Regions from separate parts of the Homo sapiens genome. Here regions 2, 3, 4, 5, 6 and 7 are each reported to be linked to region 1. The links are microRNA targets in miRTarBase. Many come from high-throughput screens and were not tested one by one. Region 1 holds a microRNA gene; each other region holds the end of a gene's coding sequence.
What was found. Region 1 holds the annotated microRNA hsa-miR-147a (GUGUGUGGAAAUGCUUCUGC, at 2,189-2,208, opposite strand). A microRNA usually pairs through its seed, bases 2 to 8, with sites in the 3' UTR of a target mRNA and lowers its output. Matches are read on the target gene's strand: a 7mer-m8 pairs with bases 2 to 8, a 7mer-A1 pairs with bases 2 to 7 and ends in A, and an 8mer does both.

Region 1 (4,080 bases):
AATGTATATACTCGTGTGTGCAGAGAACAAGGCCTAATGAGTTGGGTGTGCACCCCAGGCCAAGGGCCTCAGCTGTGTCTGCAAACACACAGGGCCTCCGTAGGAGGGCCCAAGGGAAGCAGGGAGATGGGAACCCAGCCCGTTTGGAGCAGGTGCCACCATGAGTTTGAGCCCCAGGAAAGAGGCCTGTGTGGTCATGGGAAGGAAGACAAAGTCCGCCTTAGAGTCTACTCCCAACATAGGCACTCCACAAACACATATGCATCACCCAGGGTGTGCCTGCCGCAGTGAAAAACAGAGACAAGGGGTAGCTAGGTCTTCTCTTTACTAAAAATTTCATTTGTTGATTATCTAACCACCTATCTAAAAGAGTCCCAGATACATCTAAAATTTTACTAAAGATCAGCAGAATAAAAAGCTGAGAACAGAATCCAGGTCTTCTAACTCCCAGTCCAATAGGCCTCCAAGTAAAAATGGCAGTGATGATGAATAATAATGCATAAATAGCTAACGTTCATTGAGCCCTTACTATGTGTCAAGCATCATTCTAAGGACTGTGTTTATGTATTATCATTTAATTCTCACAAAGACCTTAAAAGATAGCTATCACTGGTACCATTTCTCTTTTGTAGATGAGGAAACTGAGGCTCAGAGGTATTAAGAGACTCGTCTCATATGCCACAAATAAGAAGTGGCAGAGATAGTATTTGAACTCAGATCTCTAAGATGCCAGAACTAAACTATACTGTTAAATACCAGCCCCTGTTCTCAGACAGACAGACAGAGAGGATGGCCCAATTCAGTGCTTTGGGGGCATAGAGGAAGGTGATCTTACCTGACCTTGTGTGATTAAGGGGGAGAAGACCAAAGAAGCCTTCCTGGAGGAGGTGATGTCTGGGCTGACTCTGAAATGACCCAACTTCAACACTGTTTACTGAGTGTTCACAGGTGCCAAGCAATCTGCCAGCCCTCTAACATGCCTTATGTCATTAAACCAGGCCACCTTGGGATAGAAGCATCAGCGTCCCCATGTGATCAATGAGGAAAGGGAAGTTAAGGAGAGTGAAGTTCAGAGCAAAGGTCACCACCCCAAGCCTTCCAGCTTGTGAGTGGAAACAGGACTCGAACTCAGGGCACTCTGAGTCTAAAGCAGGCACGGGGCCTCAGCCCACAATGGGTGTGCTCAGAAGTAGGGTGGGAGGATGACAGGATGGGAGTGCCCTGAGGATGTCAGGAAGGGCTGAGGGATGCAGAGGTCACGGATACCTGGATTCCAGTCCCTGCTCTCCCACCAATCCTTTGAAAGACCTTGGGCAGTCATTCGCCTTCCCCATCGGCACCATGGAATGACTGGATGAAGGCCCCTTCAGACCTAGGATTCCATGTTCATGTCCACCTCCAGTGGCCTGGCCCAGTGCAGAGCTGTTTTCTCACCCTGCACCTCACCATGCACCTTCTGGCTGTCCATCCTCCAGAGTCAAGCTCACACACCAAAGCCCACCTCCAAGACCCATTACAATCCATCCCCCAACTTTCCTTTCCCCCTCACTCCCCCAAACCCAAGCTCTTGTCTTACTGAACATGACTGAAAGTTCAGGTGGCCTGCAGGGCCCTGAAGGGCTAAATGGAAGTCAACACTATCACCTCTGTTCTATTCCCTGACTCTCCACCTCTCTCTCCATGAAGCCAGAAAAATGGGAGGCATTCTTGCCTCCTCAGCCTCAGGCCTGACCAGTGACTGTGCATTACGTCCTGCAGATTGTCTCTGAAATGTCTGTTGACCTCCCTCCCCATGAGTCCTCACTGCCACCACCCTAGCCAGGCCACATCTCTTCCCTCAGCTCATTGCAGCACCTTCCCAAAAGGGCTCTCTCCCTCCCACATTGCCCCTCCAGTTCCCTCCCAACAGCCACTATACTATATAAACAGATTTTTTTTTTGCAAAAGTAGTATTTTATTACAGAAGACTATCTAATTTACAAATCAATACAGTAGATATTTCGAAGAAAACATTTAAGCATCATGAAAGAATGCATGAATATAAAAAAAAACTCAATGTGCAAGATTCAACAAGGAAATGCACAGGAAAACTTATTTTTGAATTATGTGGTTGTTACTATGCCACTGAGAAGGCAAAATAGAACTCCTCTTCCAGAGGCCAAAAATGGAAGGAGACCTTCAGAATCTAGCAGAAGCATTTCCACACACTGGCTTCCATAGTCTGGTGTGTGTGCAGAAATGTTGTCTTTAGATTCAGGGAGTGTTTGCTCTTTGGAAGGAAAGGAGTGAAGACATTTCATTTGGCTGCCCTTTGGGGTTTTCTGCTGCTTTTTGGTGGGCTGCTGTTATCGGTTGATTCTCAGGAGCTTCTGAGGCTCATTGGAATCCACAGTCTCTCAAGATGCAGGGTTTGTTTTTGTTTTTCCAATCAATGGTTACATCACTTTTTCTAACAGAATGAACAGCAACCACCTCATAACTATTAGGATGGCTACTATTAAAACACACACACACACACACACACAGAAAAAAATAGTGAATCAGAACCCTTGCCCACTTTTGATGGGAATAGAAAATGGTGCAGCCACTATGGAAAACAGTACAGCCATTCCTCAAAAAATTAAACATAGAATTAAAATATGATCCAGCAATTGCACTTCTAGGTATATGCCCAAAAGAATTGAAAGCACAGACCTGGACATGTAAATCCACGTACATAACAGCATTATTCACAATAACCAAGAGGTAGAAGCAACCCAAGTGCCCAGTGTCCATCAATGGATGAGCAGATAAGCAAAATAGGGTTTATACCTTCAATGGGATATTGTTTGGAAAACGAAGGAAATTGTGATGCATGTTACAATGCAAGAGGAATCTTAAGGGCATTATGTTAGGTGAAATAGGCATGTTATAATATGGCAAACACTAAATGTTTCCACTTATATAAGGTACCTAAGGTAGTCAAACTCATAGAAACAGAAAGTAAGATGCTAGTTGCCAGTGGGTAGGGAGAGGGAGGAATGTGGAGTGATTGTTTAACGTGTACAGTTTCAGTTCGGGAAAATGAAAAGCATTCTGGAGATGGATGGTGGTAATGGTTGCACAATGTGAATGTACTTAAAGACACTGAACTGCACACTTAAAAATGATTAAGATGGTAAGTTTTATGTTATGTGTATTTTGCCATAATTTTTTTTAAACTTTAAATGTATTTTTTAAAAAAGGAATGGACAGTGAAAGATGTGGCTCCAGCCACTACAAAGTTTACAAGAACCACTAGTGAAATAAGTTCCTTCTTTTTTGTATTTTTTAAAATATTTTAACTTTTATTTTAGGTTCAGGGGCACATGTGCCAGTTTGTTATACAGGTAAACTCATGACTTGGGGATTTGGCATACAGATTATTTTGTCACCTGGGTATTAAGCATAGTACCCAACAGGTTTGTTTTTGTTTGTTTGTTTGTTTTTGTTTTTGTTTTTGTTTTTTCAGAAGCTCCCTCTCCTATCTTCCTCCCTCAAGTAGGCCCCAGTGTGTGTTGTTCTCCCTTTTGGTTCATCTGTTCTCATCATTTAGCTCCCACTTATAAGGGCAAACATGTAGTATCTGGTTTTCTGTTCCTGTGTTAGTTTGCTGAGAATAATGGCCTCCATCTCCATCTATGTTCCTGCAAAGGACATGATGTCATTCTTTTTAATGGCTGCATAGTATTCCATGGTGTATATGTACCACATTTTCTTTATCCAGTCTACCATTGATGAGCATTTGCAAACTATACATCTGACAAAGATCTAATATCCAGAATCTACAAGGAACTTAAACAAATGTACAAGCAAAAAAACAGACAACCCCATGAAAAAGTGGGCAAAGGACATAAGCAGATACTTTTCAAAAGAAGACATACATGTGGCCAAAATACATATAAAAACACACTCAGTATTAATCATCATTACAGAAATGCAAATCAAAACCTCAGTGAGATACCATCCCACACCAGTCAGAATGGCTATTATGGATCAATCAACATATAACATTTTGAAACATTCTGGAAATAAGAGTGTAGATAAATCAAGATTAGTCAG
Region 2 (4,080 bases), not on the chromosome of region 1:
TGCCCTTTTGCCCTATCCTTAGCGACCGGGACACACAGCTGGCACGGCTGATGCGGCGGAACAGCCTGAACCGCAAGGACGCAGAGGCCCGCATCAATGCCCAGCTGCCCCTGACAGACAAGGCCCGCATGGCCCGCCATGTCCTAGACAACTCGGGCGAGTGGAGTGTCACCAAACGCCAGGTCATCCTCTTGCACACTGAGCTGGAGCGCTCCCTGGAGTACCTGCCGCTGAGGTTTGGGGTCCTCACAGGGCTCGCTGCCATTGCCAGCCTCCTCTACCTGCTCACCCACTACCTTCTGCCTTACGCCTAGTGGGGCACTCAAGGCAGGGAGCCCCAGGCCTCCATCTATCTCCTTGGAGGCTGAAGCCAGGTAACACATCCTGTTTCCTCTCAGCCCCCTCCCCACACACACACACACACACACACACACACACACACACACACACACACACACACGGACTCTCCGAATCAGGGCTGGGCCTCTGTGCCAGGCCATCCCGTCTTTGGAGTGTATCCTATTTGAGATCAAGAAATAGCCTGCTGTCCTTCCCACCTTCCCTGAGCAGCACCTACAGAACAGCAACCGTGATGGTGTGTGAAAGCAACAGTCAGAGACTGCTATACATTTCTGTGGGTGGGGGTAGGGAATACTGGCTCTGTGGCCCTCCTCAGAGCTGGGAGGCCAAGGGTTCACTGGGCTTGAATCCTCTCTAAGCACCTACCCCATTGTGGCCTAAACCTCCTCAGTGGACCACGGGAAATCATGTTGGACCAAGGGTTTCCATGTTCAAACAGTCAACAAGGCCCTCCCCTAGGTTGAGATATTTTTTATACTGAAGGCCCAGGCCCCCCAGTATGGCTTGCTGCCAGCAAGCAGCAAGGATTCTCTCGTGGGTAACGCTGTAGCCAGGCAGGACCAGCCTCTTCTGGGAGACCCCTCTCCCCACGTAGGGTTTGTGTAGTGCTCCCACATCCTGCTTATTGCCTGCCACCCCTGCTTCTCGCCTGGACCTCTTGGTATTCCGTGTACACCATCCTTGCTGTTTCTTGCCTCTGTGCCTTCAACCTGCTGCTCCTGGCCTGGGATACCTTTTATTTTCTTTTATTTCTTCTTCCTTTTTTTTTTTTTTTTTTTTTTTAACCTACAACTAGCTCTCAGTTCAGGCACTGTCTAAAGCCCCAGGCTGGGTTAGGTGGTCTAGGATACCAACTCCCCCTCAACATTTTACCTTAATCCAACAGTACAGTAATTAGCCGAAACTTGCCTGGTTTTTCCTACTAGACTGTAAGCCCTCTAGGGACAGGGACAGTGTCTTATTCATCTCTGTGTTCTTAGTGCAGAGCCTGGCCCGCTGTTGGTGTTTAATAAAGTGTGTTGATCTGAAATGCCCCAGACCAACCAAGATTCCCAGACTTGGCTTCTTCCCACACTGGGCTGGAGTCCTCCCGGAGCTCAGGGGGAGGTGAGGGCCCCAGAAGGTGCACTTGCCATCAGGCTTCTCCCTGGGTCCCAGGAGGACTGCAGCCAGGCCCGAGGCACCTTTGTGGGAGGTGGGTAGAGGGCTGAGGCAGCGTCACACCTTCTTGCCCCGCCTCCCCATCTGCCTTCCCCAACCCAATTAGACCAGCGCAGACATAAGCCTTCCCTGCCAGGGCCTGCAGACTTGCTGATGTGTTGATCCTGCAGCCAGAAGCCTATTAAGGCTAGAAATGAGTGTGACGGATGCAAATGCTGTGGTGGCCATACTTAGTGCCCCCTTTCCCAGAGCCGCTTGTGCTGAGTCTAGCTCATTAACTTGCTGCAAACCCCTAAGGGGCAAAGAAGGGCCGGGTAAGGCAGTGGTGGGCTGCCAGGTGGGTGGCCAGGCAGGATGAGGGTGGCAGGAGCCTGCCACTTCCTCGGTTTGGTGCGATCCGCCAGGACGGAGAAAGGAGAGGGAAGGTATGGACCCCCACAGTGCCCTATCACCCCAATAATTGAGGAAATGGCACTTCCTAGTATCGGCAGCATGCCAGGCACTGCTGGATGTGTAAGACCCTATAGTTAACATAACACTGATTATTTCCATCCCAGGCTCAGAAAGATGGATTTGGTCCAGGTTGCAGAGCCAGGCTTCTGAACTCTCTCCTGTGCCCTGAGCCTCTTGTCAGGAGGAGCTGGAGCCTGGGGTTGGGCCTTGGGCTCGCATTCCGGCTCCGCTTGCCATGTGACCTCCTGCCTTTAGTTTCTACTCATACATCGTTAGGCTTCATAGTGGAGGACACTGAAAACCCTTAGCAAACTGTAAAGTTCCAGAGAATTAACCTTCCCTGACCCAGTGAGCTGGGTTTGAAGCAGGAATGTCAGAGCATGGCAGGTGTGGAGAAACCTCGAATTCAGCCCTGCCCTGCCCGGGCCTCGCCAGAGCTCCCTCTCCAGCTCCTCTTGCCTCCCTGCCCCAGGATCCCCTTCCCGGCCTTGGGGGTCCAAGGCGGCCTTAAAAGAAGGACTACTTTCTCCGAAGGGGACTTGAAGTTGAGGCCGCTCAGCAACTGCAGAGGTCGGGCCTCCGGGACCCAGGCCCGCGCCCGAGCCGGCGGCCTGCCGTTCGGCCGGCAGGTGGCAGCACCCTCCCGGGCTGGGCCGGGCCTCCGCGGCGGGCGCTCGCCGAGCGGCCTAATCTTCCTCCTCCCAGGCCGCGGGCGGCCTCAGACTCCTGCCGAGCAGCTGCCGCGGGAGCACGGGCCAGGTGGGCGCGGAGGCTCTGCCTGACCCTGAGCGCTAACTCAAAAGGTGCGTTGTTCGCCCACGTCCTCTGAGCCTGGGCTGCGGGCCCTGGGTGCCAAAGGGCGTGTCCCCTGCCCACCCACCGCGACGGCGACGGGACCCTGCAGCCTCCGCGTTCCGTTCCCTCACTTTGGGCCTTAGCACCCGGAGCGGAGCAATAAGACACCAGCGAGGGTGAAGACGCACACGCCTTCTGGGCGGGGGACGAAGGGCGCAGGCAGGCCTCTAAAACACCCCCACCCCCAGGCCCGACTGGCCCGAAGGTCATTCGCAGTTTCACAGTTTACAAAGCACGTTCCAGTTATCCCCTTGAAATCTCCCAGCTGTGTGAGGCAGACAGGTCCAGAATTTTACAGAGGCTCAGAGGTTGAGCCAAGGGGCCTAAGTAGCCAACAGGTATAACCACCAAGCTTCTTGACTCCCAGTACAGTGCTCCTCCGGCTATCTGCACTGCCCCCATTATACACTTTGGCTCTTTAGTAATTGACAACTCTTCTTCAAATGTTCATTCTCTCTCTCTCCTCATGGGGGGCAGGGCAGAGGCAGGGAAAGGTTTAGGACCTTCCATGATGAGCCTCCATGGCTAGAAATTGAATGGGAGCAGGATAGGCGCGCTGCTGAGCGCCCCTAGTTCTCACCAAGGCACTTTAGGTCAGAAGGAAACAGTCTCAGAGCAGGAGGGGGAATGCGATGGCAGTGATGACTTCAGGCCATGGGGTCATATAGGAGTGGGCAGGGAGACCCCCGGACATGGTGGGAGAGAAGGAGCAAAAGGAAGGAGGTGATGTGGTGCTATAGGTTGCTTTCCTGCTCCTTCCAGGAGAGACGTGGCTGGTGGTTCCTCATCCCACCTGCAGAGCTGAGGCTGCACCCAGCTGGGACCCAAACCGCCTCTCTTTGCTCCCCACCTTCCCCTCCGCTCCCAGTCACTTAGATTCCAATACAATTTCCAGCTAACCAGCATGTCGATAGAACAAGTCGGGCGGCCGGATTGCTGGCCAATTACAGGAAATCATTCTGCTCCACAGCTCAGCGCTCAGGAAGGGAGAGGGAGGGAGGGAATTCAAGGGAGCAGGCGCCCAGCTTACAGGCTGGGAACGGGCTTCAGGCAGAAGGCTGGGAGTGCTGCAGCCCCCCACCCCTGAGGGGTGGGGGGTGGGGGAGGCTCCTAGGGGCAGGCCAGCCCTAGGCTCATCCTCAGCCTCATGCGGAGCTCTGGATCCAACTTCTGTGTGATGGGGAGATTGGTGCCCCAAGCCACTAAGAGAGACAGAGCTGGGAGTTGAGTGTGGTTGAGGGTCCGGCAAGC
Region 3 (4,000 bases), not on the chromosome of region 1:
TATATTTTATCACATTGTAATTTGTTAACATTGCTGAAGAGTGTTATACGTGATCAGTAACTTGCATGATTAATAAGCATTGATGTTTATACATATTCGTTTGTTTTCTAGGTATTCCAACTTTATTATATGGACTTGGCTCCTGGTTATTTGCCAGAGTCACAGAGACTGTGCATACCAGTTATGGACCCATAACAGTTTATTTTCTCAATAAAGAAGATGAAGGTGCCATGTATTGAAAGTGTGCGTCAAAGAACATAAATATCAGTGGATTTTCTCTGTGTATATGTGCAGTATTTATTTTTGATCCTTTAAAATAAAACTTTTGCAAATACTTTTTTCTTTCTACAGTATCTGCTTCTTTAAGATGAATCATTGCCCTCAAGAGGTGAAGCTTTTTATACATCGTTATATATTACATACTCTGTTTAGCTGATGTGAACTACAAACACATGAAGCTTCACACCATTTTTTCCCTAGAACTAGGTTAACCTACAGATAAAAAATGATTACAATGTAATAGATTCTATAGTTAATTAACAATTTAAATCAACTCTGAAGAGAAAATATAGATGCCCACACAAAAGAGAAGGGGGGAAAATCTTTTATGTAACAATGGAAAAAGAAGTAGAAGACATTAGGATGTATGATGGAAATATTACATCATTGGCAAATCCAAAATTGATGAGAATCTAATTGTAATCTCAAGTCTAAACCATTCAGCTGCCAGGATTGTAAATAGAAACGTTTTAAAGGCCTTGTGCCATTTACCTGGAGGAGGGGTTGGAGTGTAATGTTGAAACTTCTTGTTGCTTAAAGAGTCCAAAACCATATCGTTTGTAAAATGTAATAATAACTGGTTAATATAAGTGTAGCAAGGTGAATGAAACTCAGACTTATTAAAAGTTAAAACAGCTTTCCTATAAAGCTGTAAGAACAATTAAGATCTTCTAGAAAGATGCAGAAAAATAAATTTGGTAACTGTTTATAAAAGCAATTAACTGAAATGGTACATATCCATAGACTTATTGGCAATAAGGAGTGGGCTGAAATTTTAAAGACCTAATGGCACTTTTGCATTTGAATTTTATTAACTTAATTGCATTTTTGAAAGCCAAGTCATTTAAAAAAATGTATCCTTGGGGTAGTCACAAAATACCCAGATGAATGGTAAATTTCAGACATTTGGAGTAATTTAGGGAGAACTAAGTAGAACTATTTAATTTCTAAACCAATGGGTGTTTAAGATTTATGATCTCTCCCATAATTACAAACATACATTATATATCATTTTATGTTAATGTGTTGCTGATACTCTGCAACACTTACACATTTTTGTAGCAAAACATTTTATAAAATTCAACATTTGGATGCTTATGTCAAGTCAGTAGAGAAAGTGAGTGGAAGTGACTGAGGTGAAGGCACCAGAATAATGAAGTAATACAAACTAGCTTCGTTAAAGGTAGTCATTTTAAATGATCTACAGAGTGAACTGTTCTTCAAATATATGTGGTGTTCACTTGTCTAAAAGCAATTCTAAGTAACACTTTAATCAAAGAAGTACTTATGCCAATATATTTAGTCCAGAAGAATATACTTGACACTAGTTAAATGAATGGCTTACACAAAGGAGATAGTGTTACATTAAGCTTCATTAATAATAAAACAACTGGCTATTAGCATTTTGCAGGGAAGGCTAGAACTGATTTCCTCTGTAATGGGCAAAGTTAAATAACTATAGCTCATAAGTTTTAAGTCAAATACTGCTCATTCATTGCTGCTGGTCTTGTCAATAGTGGCTGTAAAGGTTTGGTCCCAACACAAGGCTGATAAAATGGTCTTTAATTACCAGACTATAAATACAGCTTTTCAGTAGAGTTGCACCTCTTTTCACACTGGCCTGTTTGATTTCTGATAATTTGTACTGCTGACTCTGCTTACCTGTTTTTCAATAGCTATAGTCAGTGTGACTTCTTGCCCATATGTGATAGGTAAGTGTCCTTGGAGAACATCTTTGACAAACTACCCTATTGATCTCTGTAATTCTCTGCTGCTTGCAGCATTAAACAGGGCCTTGATTTCTTGTCTGATGTGCTCACTGTATAACAAGTAAATGTAATATTTTCTTGTATTACATGAAAATCAATAGACCTCTTGCTCTTACGGAGTTGATCATGGTGAAGGATGAACTAACTCAACAATGGGTAAAGGCGTGGTTTAAAAATTTAAATATCATTCATTGGATTTATTAAGTCTTGTAAACTTGTAGTCTGAAAACAATACTTCCCATTGAACAGCAATGGTTTAAGTTTTTTCTTTAAAGCTGCATATTACACCAAAGTATTATGGCCTGAAAGGGAGAAAGTATAAATGTGTAAGTCAGGAGACTGAGTCTATTTTTAGTATTGGTGCTGTCTTACTTTTTGACCTCAGGCTAATAACTCTCCTCCTTTGTGTCTTGGTTTTTCCACCTGTAATCTGAGAAGAACGAAACAAGAGACATTTCTACCCGAAAATGTACATCAATTTTACTTTTGTCTCTGCAAAAGCTCTGTTTTTATAATCCACATTCTTCTGCTCCATTATACTTAAAGGACTTCATTAATTAAAAAATTTCAAAAATAAGGTGATGGAGAAAGAAGGAGAGATGCATTGATAGCACATGCCCACTAACCCTGAAGTGGCATGTGGGGAGCTGAAGAGGCCCTTCTCTTCTGCATATCAGTAGTTTTCTTAATTGGTGAAACCACTGATTAGCTTTTCTGTCATATTTCTTTGACAGGATTTTTATCTTTAATCCAACCAAAACTGTTTTAATAAAGGTGTACTTTTAGTACAAAACCTTGCATCTCTTCTATTGTTATTTCTATACAAATGAATTATCACGTATTGGAATAAATTTCTAGGCAAATTCCTAGGCAAAATTCTTAGTTCCTGTGTAAGTTGTGAGCCACTATAAAGATGCAGTAACCTATTTGGGAGCGTGAGAGAGGCTGCTAATACAAAAATCTCTATTTTCTTAGTGTTGATGTCCTAAAATGCCAAATTGTAGAAACAGTTATAGTTTACCACACATTTTGGGGCATTAATATTTTTCTAACGTTGACTTCCGTAAAAATTCAAACTTTTCTTTTTGAGAAGGAGTTTCAGTCTTGTTGTCTAGGCTGGAGTGCAATGGTGCGACCTTGGCTCACTGCAACCTCCACCTCCCAGGTCCAAGCGATTCTCCTGTCTCAGCCTCCTGAGTAGCTGGGATTACAGGTATGCACCACCACGCCGGCTAATTTTGTATTTTCTGTACAGACGGTTTCACCATGTTGGTCAGGCTGGTCTTGAACTCCTGATCTCAGGTGATCTGCCGGCCTCGGCCTCCCAAAGTGCTGGGATTACAGGCATGAGCCACCAGGCCTAGCTGAAACATTTGTAATTATTAAAACCGTGTATCTTTTAAAGTACATTTTACTTCATGTCATTTATATTCACCCAAAACTGTAAGCATAGAACATCTATAGTTCTTCATGAAATATCTTTTAACTCTGTTAAAGAATGATGTTTGAATAAGTGGGATGACATAAAAGGCAAAGATCTTGGTTTCACTGCACTGAAAAGCTAATGCAGATAACAGAAACCTTATCCTAAAGCTAGTGGATTAAGTATCTACTGTTACTCAAACAATAATGACATTTGGGGGCATCTTAACCTAAACAAGTACTTAGCATTACATCTCACCTGGGTCAACAGTCTAGAGTATCAGAGTTAAACTCTGTTACTGTAAATTAATGGAAAATGTAACTGCACTTTGCTGAAAGATCAATGTCCAATAAAGGCTGCACGATCAAATCTTGTTGCAATGATTGAGGTCTTTAATCGCCTTTCAAAGATAAGGTGGTAATCAACACAGCTTTAACTGATCTTTTTTACTAGTTCAATTACATGCTAATGACTAGTGCCAAGTCAGAATCTTTAACTACGTATTAAATCTTATGTTAGTAATGAAAAA
Region 4 (4,080 bases), not on the chromosome of region 1:
AAACGCCAGCGGAAGAACGCCACCCAGGAGGCCCTGCGCAAAGGGGACGATGTCAAATTCGAGGAGTTTGTGGCCTATCTCATCGACCCACACACCCAGCGGGAGGAGCCTTTCAACGAACACTGGCAAACCGTCTACTCACTCTGCCATCCCTGCCACATCCACTATGACCTCGTGGGCAAGTACGAGACACTGGAAGAGGATTCTAATTACGTCCTGCAGCTGGCAGGAGTGGGCAGCTACCTGAAGTTCCCCACCTATGCAAAGTCTACGAGAACTACTGATGAAATGACCACAGAATTCTTCCAGAACATCAGCTCAGAGCACCAAACGCAGCTGTACGAAGTCTACAAACTCGATTTTTTAATGTTCAATTACTCAGTGCCAAGCTACCTGAAATTGGAATAAAGGGGGTGGGGAGAGGGAGAGAATCATGCTTTTTAATTTAAGATTTTTATTTGTCAAAAGAATTATATGGATATTGGGTTATTTTGTAAATTAATATTTCTTTGGGGATGATGCTGCGAGCAGCATAGTGAGAATTATTTAAAATCCTTCGTAGGGAAGGACAGCTGTCTTTGCAGGGGAAATAGGATGGGTCGTCCTTGTCTGTAGAAGTGAATACTGCAACACTGTCTCAAAGGTTTCTTGTGTTCTGGTGAATTCCATGAATTGTGCATTCCATAAATTCTAATTAATATTATTTATAGTTATTTAAACATGGTCTCATTATTTCTTTTTGTGGCAGCAAAATTCTAACATCTTTCCAGAAGAAATCTATGATTCCTGCTTTGCTTGCTACAGCTCATTTGGGGGCATGAATGTTCTCCTTACTAACCTCTCATGGAGTCATGTGATAACAGCCATTGTCATGTGTATGGATGCCACCATTCTTGAATTTCTGCTAGAAATAAGTAGGTTGCTATTGCACTTAGAGTCATCTTTGCAAGGGACTCATTCCAAACCAATTCCAATCGACCTGAAAGTCCCTTGCACTAAAGAAATGTGATTTTTTTTTAACCCAAGGAGAAAGTTGGTTGTAACAATTTTTCACCAGAATTAGCAATCTGATAGAATAGGCTTTTTTAACAGGAATTTTAAACTGGCGGTGCCAGTTGCAGTGAAGGTGAAGTGGCTATTGCTTTATATTCGACAAATATTTATTGAGCATCTACTATATACTAGGCCCTGAAGATAGAGCGTTGAACAAACCCAATAGTCTTGGCCCTCAAAAAGCTTTATGTGACATAGAGCATCCAGCTCGACAATTAGCAAACCCCTGATATTATTCATGGACTTGACATGAGGTTTGGACTATTCATGAGCAACAGCAGAAGGTCCATGACCCCTACAAATTTACATTTTTCTATGGCCCATATTTGAAAACCTCACATTCGGAGCAGGCCACTTTATATTCGTGAGTGATCCCAAGCTCACTGACCAACAGAAAAGATGCTAAAAAAATGTGTCCTATCATGTGCCTGCTCCAACTGATGGGTAATGTCTGCCTTTAAGCCCCAGAATGGATTCTCCAGGCACAGTGTGGAAGAGTGCTGTGGTTGATTAGCAATGTCTGCCTTGGGTGAGGAAAGGGGAACACTCCTCAAGTGCCTCCTACTGTCATCTCCATTCAGCCTAGCACCACATCCCCATGTAGAAGTGTTGTCTTCTACTGCTTGCCACGTACAAGTGTGAAATGCCAAGGTGAGACTCGTACACTTGGGGATTTGCAATGGTTTTTACCCCTCATGAAGGTCAGAGGTGGACTATTTGTACACATACACACATGCACACCCTCTCACGTCCTCCAGAGGCTGAAAGACTATCAGCATCTTGGTAACTGCCATGCATGAGCAGCAAGGACAGCCTTCCATAATCCATGCCCCATTTCCTCTGGAAGCCTGGAAACTTTTCATTTCCTGTTCCTTGCTAATTAACATCTAAACATGCTTCTCATTTCCAGCCATTGCTGATGCTTCTCAGTTGAAGTTTGAGCCACATCCCTCTTACAGCTAGTGAATGAGTTGGTAGCAGCTACTGTATATAATAATAATAATAGTTTTAATAATAGGGGAGGGTGGGATGGGGTGTGGGTAAGTTTTGCCTTTTGTTTTGTTTTTGATGCCGTATATAGTGAAGGGGTGAGGATATTCTAAACAAACAAAAATTGAATAATTTATTCACAGAAACTATTAAGATTGTATTGTAAAGCTCACAGCAAGCTCAGTGGGCAGCAGCTGCAACATCTCACCGGGGAAATTATTTTATTTAACGTGAGTGAGATGTGGGCCGGAGAAGGTAGCTGAAGCTATTTATAAAACGTTGTGTACCTTCTTCCGAGCTCTCTCCCCTTTGTGAAGGGCGCAGCAACTATACCCTTGATGGATGGAGATTTACGCAATGTGTTTTACTGGGTAGAGTGACAGACCTTGGCTGTCCCTGGAATTGAGAATCTGGACCTTATTTCCAGGCAGAGAACACTGTCCTCAGAAATGGGACTTCTGATAATGAAACAGGTTGTCCAACATTTTCTAATACGCATTCTACAGAACACAGGTTCCAGGAGGCATCAGGTTGGTGTGATGCAGACTAAGGGTTTTGTGGTCAAATATCCTTAAGAAACAAAGTTAAGTCAGTTTCCTTTCTGCAAGGACTTTTCAGCCTTCAATGTGTGCTGTGCATGGTGAATCCCCAAAAATAATCCTTGAGTCTGTAGCATTTCCTGAACTTACATGACCAGGATACTCTATTTTGCAGATCACCCCACAGAGCTAGGGTTCCACCGAGTATACTTTGCTTAGGTTGACTTAGCATATCTGAGGTCTTCAAGGATAAAAACTGCCACCCCAACACCCTTCCATTAAAAAAAAAATACAAAATAGCACCACAGTCTCCATCTGGTTTATAGCAACAGAGGTACTTTATTTAATGAAGCAATGGTTCTAATCCTGGATACTGCCACGGACTACAATTCTATCCCTCCCAGAGGGAGTGGAGGAAGTCTTGGGTGGTGTGGACAGAAGGAAGAGAGGAGAGGGTGAGTGGGGTATAGGGCCCAGGGTGGCTCCCTACTCCTCAGGCTCAAAAGGATGCTCAGTGGGAACAGATGATCTCTTGATGAGTGCTTCTTCAGTTTCATAGTTTGGAATCGTTCACTGTGTGCTTTTTGGGGGGTTTTCAATGGAAATTCACGTTGCTTTGCATTTCTGTGTCCGTCTTTGGTCAGTTGTGCAAGCCTGCTCACTGTCATGTGAAGATGGCCTTTCATCTGGCTTCTCTCTCTTAAGTGAGAAAGATTGTCCTTCAGGGGACATGACATCAATAGGTTTCTGGAATGAGGGACTCTTTCTCCCCGTGTTTTGCTTTGTGTTCACATTTTCTTTTCTAATGGCATTGAAACTTTAAAAAAAATGGATTCAACTGTTTTTGCAGAATGTAGAAAGTATTCTGTGTCCTTGGTTAAAGAAATCCACTTGTGAAGTGTGCCTGGAAAATGAAAGTTTGTGTTTTTTAAAGAGGAATATTTGAAACTGCTTTCTATGCATGCTTAGCTGGAGAAAAGTACAGGCAGGCGTCCCATCTCCCAGCCACTTCTCAAAGGTGCTGCTGTGTTTTAAAGACCAGGTACAGCCAGGGCAGTATTTGCAAGGACATTCCTGCTTACTTTATCCCTTTGGTTGGAAAGCTCTAGATGATTCCCGCAGCTCCTCCAGACCCCGCCTCCCTGCCCTCCCCAGCTGGTCTGGGAAGAGGTGGTCTGCTGACCTGTGGTATCTCAGAGGGGACGTTCCTCCTCCTCCCTGTGCACCAGGTGGGCTGCACCCTCCTGCCTATTCAGGATGTGGATGCCACAGGAGAGCAGCAGGCAGTGGAAACTTCAGTTGCACTGGTTCTCCTGGTGGCAAAGGCATGAAGCACAGGGGTCGATTAATCCAGGCTACTAGAAAGCTCCAGAGCAAAGTGTGCGGGTCCCACAAATGCTTGGCTGGTGGGGTCTGGATCAGTGCTGAGATAGAGTTGGCAGAAGAAGCAGAGGCACTCTGCTTGCTTTCCTAGCCAGTCCTCCCCTACACACACACA
Region 5 (4,080 bases), not on the chromosome of region 1:
TCAGGCATGAATTATAGTGCTGTTGGCCTTGAGCACAGTGTTACTGAATCAATAATACATATTAAATAAAGTGTCTTTAAACAGAAACACATATAAACCAAGGTTATGCATTGATTGACAAAAATGTAGTAGCCAGAGACTCACAGGAACTTAACCCTATATTTTCCCTAGAAGCAGTGGTTCCATATTCACTAATTTAGTGTTTGTAGTGACCTTATAGAAAATAATTACCTCAGAAACCAAGAATCAATCATGTATATATAGTGAGCAATTGGAAAATGTGAAATATTAATAACAAAAAGAAGAAAAATTCAACTATAATCTTACAATTAGTAGAGATAGCTACTAATATAACTATTATATATACTTCTCTTTTCCTATTAATATACAAGCATGTTTTTTAAAAAACTAAGACTATATTATATGTACTTTCTAATAAATATATTGTGACTATTATCCCAGGTTATCAAAATTTTTAGTAATATTTTAACAGCAGATACAAGCTATGGCTATGCCATTATTTATTTAAGATGCCAATGTTAGACATTTAGGTTGTTTTATGATATTTTTTGCTTCTCCTTTCCCATTGATTATTTATTACCTCAGATAAAAGTTCAGTCAATCCTCATTACCCATTTCTAAAAGTAGACACAACTACATTTAGGAATATTGCTTCAAACATAGCATATATATCTGATGTTGATATATTGCTTTTTTCATGTTTTCTCTTACAGTTCTTATAGTCATGAAATACCGTACTTGATTTGATGACAGAGATCTTCATTAAACAAGATCTGGGACAGTAATAAAAGATTGCTGCATAATTTAAATGAAACCTATGTGTATATAACTTTCAAAACTTCTTTTTCAAGAAACTAAGAGGCAAGTATCACTTCAAATTGGAACGTTGAGAATGTCCAATTATCTTCTCCCTTTCTAACAAAATGTTCTTTTAATAATTATGTTTAAGGCAAAGAGAACTAGCCTCTATTTTTCCATATTTCAAGGATCTAATTTGAAACTAGATACTTGCCAGTTCATTATTTGTGTATATAAACACTGATTATAATATTTCATATTAATATTTTAATGGCATAAGGACTTGCATTATTGCATTAGGGAGCGGGTCATGCTGGGGGTCAGGAAGCCTGTGTAGAGTACCAAATTATATGCTGAAAGAGATGCATAACCATTCTGTCAATATTTGCAGAAATATAGTTCCTTTCATATTACAGTTGTTTTGCAAGCAATTTCCACATTTATAGGTGTAACAAAAGCTAAATGTTGTAAATGTTGTTGCCCTCAGGTATAACTAAAAACATTCCAGTAAATATATTTTTGACTGTGTAAGAGAATGTGTAGTAATTTTTTTGGCATTGGATTATGGAAATGGAAATTTTTAAACAGTGTGAAAAAACATGGTATGGCATCATAAAACTGGAGATAATAAAGTTATTGAAGAGTGTCATTGGAGTATTTGAAAATGACCAATATATAGCTGCCAGTCATGGTCCAGTCTGTTTTCTGTTAAACTCCAATAAAGAGAGACCAGTCAGTCCTAATGTGAGTAAATGAAATTTACAGGTAACTTACTTACTCCTTAATTTTATTTTAGTTAATAGCCTCTAACTTCCAACTATCTCATTTACCAAAAGTACAAAAAGTAGCAAAACCATCTATTAATACTTTGAATTTTATATCTTTGCATTTCCTGTTCATCCTTGAGGAGATGTATGTTGCACAATCAAATTTTGCATCAGCCAACAGTAATGAGTAGTAGAAAGTCAGGAACCTATGTGTATATATATATATATATATATATATATATATATATATATATATACACACAAACACACACACACACACACACACACACGCACACATATGATAATCAGTCAGTCGGTAACCAAATGCTAGAGAGTGACCATTAACCTAAGCCTGTTTTTATAATGAAAAAATGTGTTAACTTTAAAATATGCCAACCTCCTTGTGTCTTTTAAACAAGTCAGAGTGAAAATACATTGTCCCCTAAGGTGTGGGGAGAGGAAGCTTTATAATAAAATTAGTGATTCTGCAGAAACTTGTGCACTGGATATCTTGACAATATGAATATAAAACTCCCTAAATTAAAAATAGGGTTAATAGAAATTATCAGTATTTAAATAGGGAAAAATGATTTTATGTTTATTTTATTTAGGTTTTATTTCTTTGGTCATCTTAATGCAAAATGAATAAAGCATAGAATCTGGGTTTGGTGTTTTTTTGTCTGTTTTTAAAATTCTACAGGATTATTACTAGGAGGCAAAAAATGCTGTTTAGAATGGAAAAAATTTGAAGAGAGAAAGCAGACTGAGACACTCAAGACACCTGCAAGTTATCTAAGAAGATCTAAATAGAATTACTAAATTTTATAGTTTGCTTAGAGCATTTAGAAGGAGATAAAGGTCTTACATACTATAGTGTATATTGTCTTTGGTCTCTATGCTCTTTGTAAATGTCAATTAATATAAACAGCATCTGAACAGCTAATAAATCTTTTAAGTTAAGATACCCAGAAAAATGAGCATTTTTAGAATTTCAGTAGCTAATAATTCAGGAATGGAAATATTTTAACTGAATGGACAGAATCAGTCCTAACATTTGTATGTATGTCCTTTATTTGAATTGGAACTAGGCTCATAAGTGGTTAATTTTCCATTAGTTGATGTAGAAATCTGGTTTCTCCATAATATCTACAAGTGAAGATGAAGATTACTTCTCAAAAAGTATCCATATTTCCAGTGTTCCTTTTAATAAAATATGCCACTTTTAAATAAATAATTACAAAATGTAAAATTATAAAATTTTTAAATTTAAATAATAAGTAACAGTAAAATTTTTTGACAATATATATGTCACTGTCTTTGTAATTTAAACATATTGCTGCCTGGGATATGGGTAACAGAATTATCACTCATGGAACTTTGTAGTAGTGATGGCTTGGTTTGTAATTCATCATTTCATCTTTCTTGGTCTTGATTAATCCTGAAATCCTTAAAATGGCTGGCATGGTTATGACTTTATTGTGGTAACCTTGGAGATATAAGCCCTCTTACGATCAAAAACAGAAGAAAAAAATATATTGTTCAAACTGATGCCAGGCCTACCTTTATTCCCTCCCTTAATTACTTTTTTTCTCATTCAGCTCAGATCATCCTGCACTTGAAAAATGAAGTTTTACCACCATCAAAACTATCATTATTTAACAACAAGTGAAGATCAACAGAAAAATTCAAGTAGCTTTGCAAATACTAGTTGATACTCAGTGAAATCACGTCACTATTTTGATGCCTGAATCCATACCTTTGTGATTTATGTTTAATTACAGAAGCCTATTGCCTTGCAGCAATTTTGTTGTTATAATACTGATTAATTGGTTACTCCTTCTTATTATAACTCAGTAATACCTGTGGTCATTTGGTTCCTCTATCCTGACAAAGTTCACTGGAAATTGCCCTCAGATTTTATAAACTGGGGGATTTCTTAATTAGATAAAAGTTCATTACTGAAGATGGAATATTATATAAGATGGAGGAAGGGTAATTAATAGACATGAGATATAGAAATACTTTGTTAGCCCTGCTATAGATTGCCTATTGTAGTCTTTCTGTGCATTTCAATAGTCTGTATTAGGAAATTATAACTTCAGCACTTTTGATAGCAAAAATTGGCATCTTTCAATTCTGTATAGTATGTGACTATCCTGTAAATGATAATATGTGTACAGACTGAGAAGGCAGGAATATAAAGTAATTGAAATCTCTCATTGCCGGTATACTCTAAAACATGCTTGATGCCTTGTCAGCATCATTGCACACATTGACTCTGTATTTACATCTGTATATACACTATGATTAGAAAATATGCAAGAAATTGTTTTTCCATGTTAAGAACAAATGCCATTAGAAGATGTCCCCTTAATTGTATTGTCAGAGTATTACTATGTCAAGGATGACTGTTCTGTTAACCTAATTTTGTGTTTTCACATGGAAATGTGATTGGACTCCATTTTTCTGTGAGTTGAGAGTAAGAGCATAAGTC
Region 6 (4,080 bases), not on the chromosome of region 1:
TGGAACTTCTAACCTAATGAATCTATTGTAGATTTTCATTTTTAAATAAAAGCTAATTTTAATTTTTTCAGATACTGCAACCAGGTTACTATTTTCATACAATCATGGAAATTTAAAATGCAAAGTTAATTGAAAGTATAAAGATGAAAAGCAAGTGCTATGCCTAAAATAGTGCACGACAGTCATGTTTCACTTAACTCTCAAGTCAGAACATAAATTAAGAATTCTAGATGTGACATGCCAAATATTTTAGACATAGAAGAAAGCATACAACAGAATCTGTACCAATTACAAACTTAAAGGCAAAATTTACAAGGCAACAAGTTCATGCTGAAATACTGACAACAAATAATGTTTCTCTTATTTTCAGAAAGTGATGCTGCATTTAAATCCCATCACCACTTTATACAGTACTGAAAATTCATAATAGTGTTTTCCCAAGTCTTGTATTATACCCCAAAGCCAAAATATCTGTAAGGAGTAAAGAACACTGATACTCTGAACATAACCTAAGGAGAATTTTTTTTTTTTTTGCTTATAACAAAATGTAAAAGAAATAAATATTACACAATGGGACTCCATTAAAAACAATATAACATTTGACAGCATAAGTATATACAAGAAGCCTGCCTTATGCTCTAAACTTCATCATCCTATTTTTGTAAGTGAGCATGTTCTATATATAATCCTGTTAAGAGTAAAGGAAATATTACAACTTTTAACATTTTCCTTATCATTTTTGCTGCTCTATTCCCTTTCTTAAAAAATGTATTTTGTAATTGAAATATAAGACTACTCAGTTAGGAGTCATAGTTAAACAACACAAGAACAAGAAAAATACCTCAAAATGTACTAACATACGGATTTCTTCAGAGTGAAAGTTGAACCAATAAAATATGAAATTATATTTAGACACCCTCAAATAAGCTACAAAACATAATGACAAGAAAAATGGAGATGGTAAAAAATCCTCTCTTAAAAATTCAATAAGCATATTTACCCAACATAAGTAAATAAAACAGGAAATATCATTCTTGTTTATTTGAGGCACGTACAACCATAGTAAATAAATAATTTCGTTCTTATATATGCAGAAAAACAATCTATGAGAAATTAGTAACAAGAACAAGCAAGATTACCCCTTCACATAGGCTCTTTTTAAAAATCACTTCACATAGGCACTTTTAAAAACTGATGATATATTTAGATTGTCTGTAATATCCAAATAAAGCTACTTTCTAAATGTGTTGCAAATGAAAGCAATTTTCAGACCTATCCTAGAAACCCACTGTCATGCAGAACTCAAGACATCCCACTTCGTATTTTATCTGTCAATTTAATCTCTTCCCCCACACACTCACATCCCTATTCCCATTCCCAAATTAGACTTTAAAATCCCTGAGGGCAGGACCTATCTATCTTTGTATTCCCTCTTGTACCCGATATTGTGGCAAGCAAGATATGGGTGCTCTATGATTATTTAATAAGTGGATGAGAGCATTAACGAGTATGGAAGTACACGCAAACTCCATAGCTGTCAGTTTTTTGCCTTCCTTATTTCAACTCAGTAAAATGAAGATAGATTCAGTAACATATTTCCATAGTGAAATGAAGCATAATCACTAAATTGTACTCTATGAGAAAATACAGAAGTATATCCTTCAGAACGCTATTACCCAAGCTGTGCTTTGCTTTATAGAACAGTTAAATATGGGATAGTAAAAAGTTTCCCCTCCTCTTAATAAAAGGGTTCCACCACGATCAGGTAATCTGAGCAATCCAGTTTAAAAAAAAATCAAGTAGCATTTCTTTACTGTTATTAGTTTTTTTTTTTTTTTTTACTGTTATCAATAGCATTTACTTCACTCTTCAAAATACATTATATGCTAACATGTACTATCACTTTATAAGCAAGTACCAAAGAACACTTTTGGTCTTGGATCATCTCAGTAGAAGAATGTTCTAAGGAATGGAGTTTGAAAAAAGATGTTTTAGGAGCATAAAAGACATCATGTTAAATCTCGTTTACCAAAGTAAAATTATAGATTTGAAGGGCATATTTAATGTCCCATTAAATATTCATTACTCTGTGTCCACAGAAAGTAGAATGAAGGCAAAACTATCATGAGCATTCTTCTGTACTCACTCACTCACTGTGAAAGGGTAGAGGAATATCTATTTGCTGTTTCTGATACCGTCTGTAGGGTTTGGTTGTTAACACTTCATTGAAGAGTTTTCTTAATTCTTCTCAATATATTCTCAAAATATTTCCTTCCTTCCTCTTCCTTTTCTGTCTTTTCTTTCTAAGTGTGTATGTACAAAGGAAATAGGGACCTCTGAATTGTATCTTAAAGACATTTTCAGACAATGAATATTTATGTTTGATTAATCTTTGGAAGTGTTCAGAAAACATTAATGCTCATTAACAAATGGGGTAACCATGATATTTCTATGAGAAAAAATGTCAACAGATATGGTTCTGAGATTTTGTGCGGGTCCATTATGATTCTGCAAAATAACTCAATATGCCTTCTAAACCACAAATATCATAATAAAAGATATTACATAGGGAGAAAAGCACTATTCAAGGGAAAGTAGGAAGCTAGCTAACCTTACGGTGTTCATTATCACAAGATTTGGACCTAGTGCCAGTTCTGCCATTAGCTGTGTGACTTCAGGACATTTCTCAGTGTCTCAGGATGTCAGGTATCTCTTTTGTAAATGAAAGGAACAAGTTTAGTGGTTCAGGGACTGCTGCAGTAGTGGATTATGAAGAACAGGAGAACAGCAGAAGGGGAGACCAAGCACATGGGACACCCACCTCACTTACATCTTCCACTAAGCAGCTCCACTCTCACGTTCGATATATTAAAGTTTAGAGCAATATTTATTTTTAAAAAGTCCTGCTAACTTAAAAAGGGGGAAACATAGATTGCATCACCTAAAGATAGCATGCTCTAATTTGCATGTTTAATTAATATGTTTTCATCTCAGAAAAAAATGTTTTTACATCTTTTCCTGTTCATTCATGTGCTCTTGGTTCAAGTAAAATAAAAACTTAATGACTATAACATTTTTATAGAGCTTATTTTATACTTTTGTAATATATTTCTTCCTTATTAAATAAAAAGATGAGTTGAGGTGTTGCTTTCAAAATAAAATTAAACATAACATAGAGATTGGATGAAGTCAACTCCTGCCCATGCTTAACTTTAGAGTTATCTTTTCATGCTGCCTTATGGGCACTTAAATACTGTACTGTCTTATCTTTGAGGTAGAACAAAAAAAAAATGGCAAAAACATTCACATAAAGGGGAAAATGGAAAAGAAAGCTATGAGAGATTTCTTTTTAACATAATTATCATCATTAGGCTTTGCAGTCTTCTTTGACACAAAGTTGAGATATAGTCTTCTTAATACGAAGAGCAGTTAGGCGGGCCGCTCCGTTGGCATACCAACACTCACGCATTATTCTCCCCATGACTCGGAGTGCCTTTAAGAGAGAAAAAAAAAATCAAAGACTTTAGCTACTCTACATAAAACAGAGCACAAAAGAAGTAAAGCCATAAATCCAGGAATTGATGCTAAGCTTTTTTTTTTTTTTTAAGAGATGGGGTCTTGCTATGTTCCCCAGGCTGGAGTACAATGGCTATTCACAGGTGCAAGCATAACACACTACAGCCTCAAACTCTTGTGCTCAACCGATATTCCTGCTTAATCTTCCAAGTAGCTGGGACACAGGCATGCACCGCTGTACCTGCCATTGATGCTAACTAAGTTTTGATGAAGAAACAGTAAATTTAAAACAATATAAGAAGATTAGGGTCAAACCCCTTCAAAAATTCTACCAAAACTCAAATACTAACCTTGTAGAGACTAACTAAAAAATGTTTCAATCCACTGATTTCTGGGAATATGGGACATGAAAAACATCAAGGGATATGGGAAGGCTTGGAAATTCCCTGTATCTTGATGTTGGTGATGAGTACACAAGTGTAAACGTACGAAAAAAAATTCATCAATCTGTATACTAAGATTTGTGAGTTTTACCAAATGTAAATTATACTACAATAAAAATTA
Region 7 (4,080 bases), not on the chromosome of region 1:
TCGATGGAGGATGGGAGACTGTGGGGAAGAACCCGGTCCTCCCTGTGCCCCGTGACATGAGAGTGTGCCCTCTTGCCAGCCGCCCCCCGAGGGGCCATACCGCACTGTGGTTGTGGGTTAGGCAGCATGATCACGGCAATGGATAACCAGTGCACTGCAGGAGGGACAGGCATCGGCATCCCCCCCACTGGACAAACGAGGAGACTGAGGCAGAGAGGGCCAGTGGCTTGCTATGGTCACACGGTCGTAGGGGTACGGCCTGGGCCTGAGGCCTCGCTGTGGCTTAGCCCTGGTCTCACAAACGAGCAAGACCTGCCCTCCAGGGCTGCCCCTCGGAAGCTGGGCACCCATCCCAGCTGCAGGGCAAGGCTGGGTCTGGCAGGTTTTTCTCCTGCTCCTGAGCCCAGCTCTGAGCCCACAGGGCACCAACCCCTCTCACCTTGGCAACCTCCACCTCCTTCCTCGCCCAAACCAAATACCACCCCTTCCAGGAAGCCTTCCCGGCTCTTCCCAGTCAGGAGTTCCCATCCTTCCCAGACCTCCAGCGCCTCCCCTGCTGCCCTGAGCCGGGTCACCCACCTCTGCACTGAGTTCTCTGCCAGCCTGTGAGCTCCCCGGGGGGCCGGGGCCGGGCTGGGCTCCTCCCTGCGCCCACACAGAGCTTGGCACAGAGCCCTGCACACAGTAGCCGCTTCCTAAGTGTGTGTCTCCTCCTGCTTATGTCCTGTCACCCCCACCATGACACCTTCAAGCAAGGGCACGGGAACTCGGGCCTCTTTTTCCCAGGACTGGCTGGGCGTTTGCAGACACTCGGGGCCAAGCCCCGCGGCTTCCAGGAGGGCTGAGCTCCCGGGCGGGGTGTCCTGGCTGTTGAGGACCCCGCACCTCGCTGCCTGCCATTTTCCCTTGTTCCTCTGTGGGCCGTTGACTCCTGGCCAGCTGCCCGGTGTTCCCAAGGCAGGCGCCTCTCTTCTGTGTCTGCCCTTCTCCCGCATTTCCTATAAATAGCCCATCTTCGCTCCTCAGTGAAAGGGAGCAGCGGGCTGAGAAGGCCTGGCCACCTCTCTGTCCCATGACCAGACTGTCATCGAGTTGCTATGTGACCTTGGGCAGGTTGGGGCCCTCTCTGGGCCTCCACCCGTCAGCCCTGGAACCCGCTCCTGGTCCCCGCTCCTCTCCCCTGGGCCTGGCGTTGTGGTCTCCAGCGGTCTCTCATGCCCTCCCGGGACCCCTCATGGAGGACAGGGAGCTGCCCAGGGCTGAGAGTCCCGGGCTGGCCAGAAACCTTGGGTCAAACGGCGAAGAGCTGGTGATGCAGCGTCCTCAGAAATGGCCCCCTTTGGAGGGCTGAGTCACAGGGTGCCCGTGGAGCCCACCCGGGCGTGCACCCCCGGAGCAGGCCTCACACTCTCAGGTCCCTGGTGGGGTGACCGGGGTGCAGGTGGCAGGATCGGGCTGGCTAACCTGGAGGGGACAGATGGGCCCTCAGTTCTGTGGCCCCTGGGGGACAGCCCCCTGGGCTTCTGCTGTAAGGGAGGTCCCGAAAGCTGGAGACAGCTACAGAAGAGAGGGGTGAGCTTCCCGTCACCCAGGGCGTGCAAGCAGAGGCTGCCCCTGCTCCTACCTGCACTGGCCCTTCCTCCCTCCCTCCTTGTCCCCCACTGGGTCAGACTGAGACTGGGTCCTTTCTTGGGGGACCCGTCAGAGCCTGAAAACCGGCTTCATCCCTCCGGTTCCTGCCCTGGAGTCTCCCGGGTTCCTGTTGCCTCTGGGACCCGGCTCCAGCCGCAGCCTCCTCCCTCCCTGGGTCTGTGCCAGAGTTCAGAGTGGGGGTGGGTCTGCCATCAATGGAGGGGTGGGGTGGGGGCTCAGCAGCCGGGACTTTAGGAAGGACAGGGGAGGGGCCATCCAGACAGGAAGAGAGGGGTGACAGGGAGCTTTGACTCAGCAGTCCCGGCATCAGGCAGGTGTCCGGGCCCAGGGTGAGGTGTTCCCCTTCCTCACAGGGCCCTCCCCCTGAGCAGAAAGGCAGCTCTGCGTGGGATGCAGGGCTGGGGGCTGTTTCCCTGGGGTGGGTACAAAACCCCCACTCAGCTGGCAGGTGGATTCGAGGGCCTGGGAGTCCAGTCTCGTCCTCAGCGTCTCCCTCTGGCTCCTGTAGGTGGGATGAGGGGCACCCTGTGCTCTGGGCAGCAGGAAGCCAGGGACTCTCTCCATCCTCCCCTGGGGATGCTAAACAACCTGGTGCTCGTCCCACATGGACTCCAGCCTCTTATTCACTCAGAACGGGGGCCCACACCAGGGCGTGCTGCCTGGAGGGGTGGTGGGTGAGATGCATATGGAGGGGGCTGCAGTGCAGGGTCTGGCTCCGGGCTCAGCGTCCTGAGAGACCCCCGAAGAATTAGGGGTCTCTGGGCACTTCCTGTAGGTGGGGCTCTGGCGACAGCAGGGGAACCCGCCCTCACACAGACACACCCTCCAACCACCTCACGCTCACGCTCAATCACATGCAAACCCACACCATCGGCTCACCCGGAACCTCACTCAAGAGCCTCTGGGCGTCCCAGGCCCACTCACACCCCCTCGGCTGCTGGGTTCTGCACACACCCCGCTGGCACGCACAGCCAGACACACACAGAAGCAGCCCCGCACCGTGGATCCACCACACCAAGACCCTGCTCCCGCCCGTCCTCCCGCCGCCACCTGAGCTTGGCTCCCGCCTACCCTGTCCACACCGGCTCTCAGACACGCTCCAGCCCAGTGCGGGCCGCCCACCTCCCAAGGGTTCCCACGTGCACCCCCCTGGTCACACCACGCTCTAGCCAAGAGAGCACAGCGTGTCCCCACCCCAAGGCCAAAATCAGTAAAACCACCCCCTAAACGGGACATAAAAGAAACCTCAACTCTTTCCCTGAAACCCACAGTAAAAACCCAGGACAAACAAGCATTTGATTTGTTTTCCTTTGCAGATTTTTTTTTAAGTAGACATAGTCTTTTTTTTTTTTTTTTTAGTAGACATAGTCTTTTTTTCTTTCTCATTTTACAGCAAACATTGCAAATATAGAAATATTTTTTTCTGTACAATAGAACGACTACAGTGTACATGGGGGCTGGGCTGGGGGACGTGCCTCCCAGCCCTTGGCCGTCCTGGCCACCCCGGCCGTCCACAGGCACAGCCTCCACCCACCCTGAGTCCAGCAGGGCTCCAGGACCTGTCCCGGAGGCCACTTGGCCGCCGGCATTCACTCTGCCCCTCTGCAGTGGACTCCGGAGGCGGCAATGAAGAGACGGACTGGACAGAGAATCCACAGAAAACCACGGACCGAGGAGATCACGTGAGGGGCCCCGAGGTGGCCACGCCGGCCACACCCCCCACGGATGGCATTTTATGTCTTTTTAAAATAACTTGTCTTTTATTATATTTTTTTAAAAAAGGAAGAAAGTAAAGAGATAGAGAGGAAAAGAAAAGGCAGAGAAGACTCAAAAGAGGAAAGATAATGAAAAAAAAATCCCCACCCCCACCCCCCATCCCTAAGACACAGTTTTCCGAAGTCCCTCGTGTGTGTGTGTGTGTGTGTGTGTGTGTGTGTGGACACGTGCCACCCGGGGCGACAAGCGCATCCCAGGACCGGCCACAGGAGCTCGGGACGTGTCCCCCTTGTCTGTCCCCACTCGCTCCCCCCTCGCCTCTGCAGGGCCCCCCGCTGTCACAGTTGCTGTGGTGGCGTGCGTGTGTTGGGTTTGGTGCTGAGTCTCTGGGTGGATCCTGCATCCTTTTTGGTCCAGTGGGCATCGCCGGTCTTGGGGGGCTCAGGACTTGTGCTGGGCCGACACGCCCTTCCAGTAGTCCAGGATGTCGTGCAGATCCTCGTCTTTGGCGAACTGAACCTTCTTGCGCAGGGCATGGCCCGCGGCCATGAACTCCTCTTCCTCCTTGTGCCGCCGGCGGCTCAGTCTGAAGCGCTCCCAGATGCTCTGGGAGGCCCGGCAGGTGTACTCGGGGCTGGAGGAGTAGCTCAGGCTGTGGTACTGCGGGGACAGCTGCGAGTAGGCGAGGTCGCGGGGCCGCGGCCGGGTGAG

Region 2: miRTarBase lists DCAKD as a target of hsa-miR-147a. Seed matches in the 3' UTR shown: 7mer-m8 at 407-413.
Region 3: the mRNA of C15orf61 is a reported target of hsa-miR-147a. Seed matches in the 3' UTR shown: 8mer at 577-584 and 7mer-m8 at 3,069-3,075.
Region 4: miRTarBase lists CHST11 as a target of hsa-miR-147a. The part of its 3' UTR that is shown has no 7-base or 8-base seed match.
Region 5: miRTarBase lists VAMP4 as a target of hsa-miR-147a. Seed matches in the 3' UTR shown: 7mer-A1 at 1,844-1,850.
Region 6: miRTarBase lists ACVR1C as a target of hsa-miR-147a. The part of its 3' UTR that is shown has no 7-base or 8-base seed match.
Region 7: miRTarBase lists ELFN1 as a target of hsa-miR-147a. Seed matches in the 3' UTR shown: 7mer-m8 at 3,586-3,592.

What each region holds. Positions count from the first base shown.
Region 1 is chr9:120,242,797-120,246,876 of GRCh38, forward strand. MIR147A (microRNA 147a) reads right to left here and starts at 2,254; the gene lies at 2,183-2,254.
Region 2 is chr17:45,020,667-45,024,746 of GRCh38, reverse strand. DCAKD (dephospho-CoA kinase domain containing) reads left to right here. Exons shown (of 5, transcript NM_001288655.2): 5 at 23-1,403. The coding sequence ends at 314. Among named protein-coding and RNA genes, the nearest start is that of DCAKD, 29 kb to the left of the region's middle. RefSeq lists a silencer at 2,366-2,715.
Region 3 is chr15:67,526,307-67,530,306 of GRCh38, forward strand. It overlaps C15orf61 (chromosome 15 open reading frame 61), which reads left to right. Exons shown (of 2, transcript NM_001143936.2): 2 at 112-3,840. The coding sequence ends at 239. Among named protein-coding and RNA genes, the nearest start is that of IQCH-AS1, 6.5 kb to the left of the region's middle.
Region 4 is chr12:104,757,396-104,761,475 of GRCh38, forward strand. It overlaps CHST11 (carbohydrate sulfotransferase 11), which reads left to right. Exons shown (of 3, transcript NM_018413.6): 3 at 1-4,080. The coding sequence ends at 408. Among named protein-coding and RNA genes, the nearest start is that of MIR3922, 170 kb to the left of the region's middle.
Region 5 is chr1:171,701,189-171,705,268 of GRCh38, reverse strand. VAMP4 (vesicle associated membrane protein 4) reads left to right here. Exons shown (of 8, transcript NM_003762.5): 8 at 735-4,080. The coding sequence ends at 763. Among named protein-coding and RNA genes, the nearest start is that of VAMP4, 39 kb to the left of the region's middle.
Region 6 is chr2:157,530,551-157,534,630 of GRCh38, forward strand. It overlaps ACVR1C (activin A receptor type 1C), which reads right to left. Exons shown (of 9, transcript NM_145259.3): 9 at 1-3,493. The coding sequence ends at 3,368. Among named protein-coding and RNA genes, the nearest start is that of CYTIP, 89 kb to the left of the region's middle.
Region 7 is chr7:1,746,814-1,750,893 of GRCh38, reverse strand. ELFN1 (extracellular leucine rich repeat and fibronectin type III domain containing 1) reads right to left here. Exons shown (of 4, transcript NM_001128636.4): 4 at 2,948-4,080. The coding sequence ends at 3,811. Among named protein-coding and RNA genes, the nearest start is that of ELFN1-AS1, 6.5 kb to the right of the region's middle.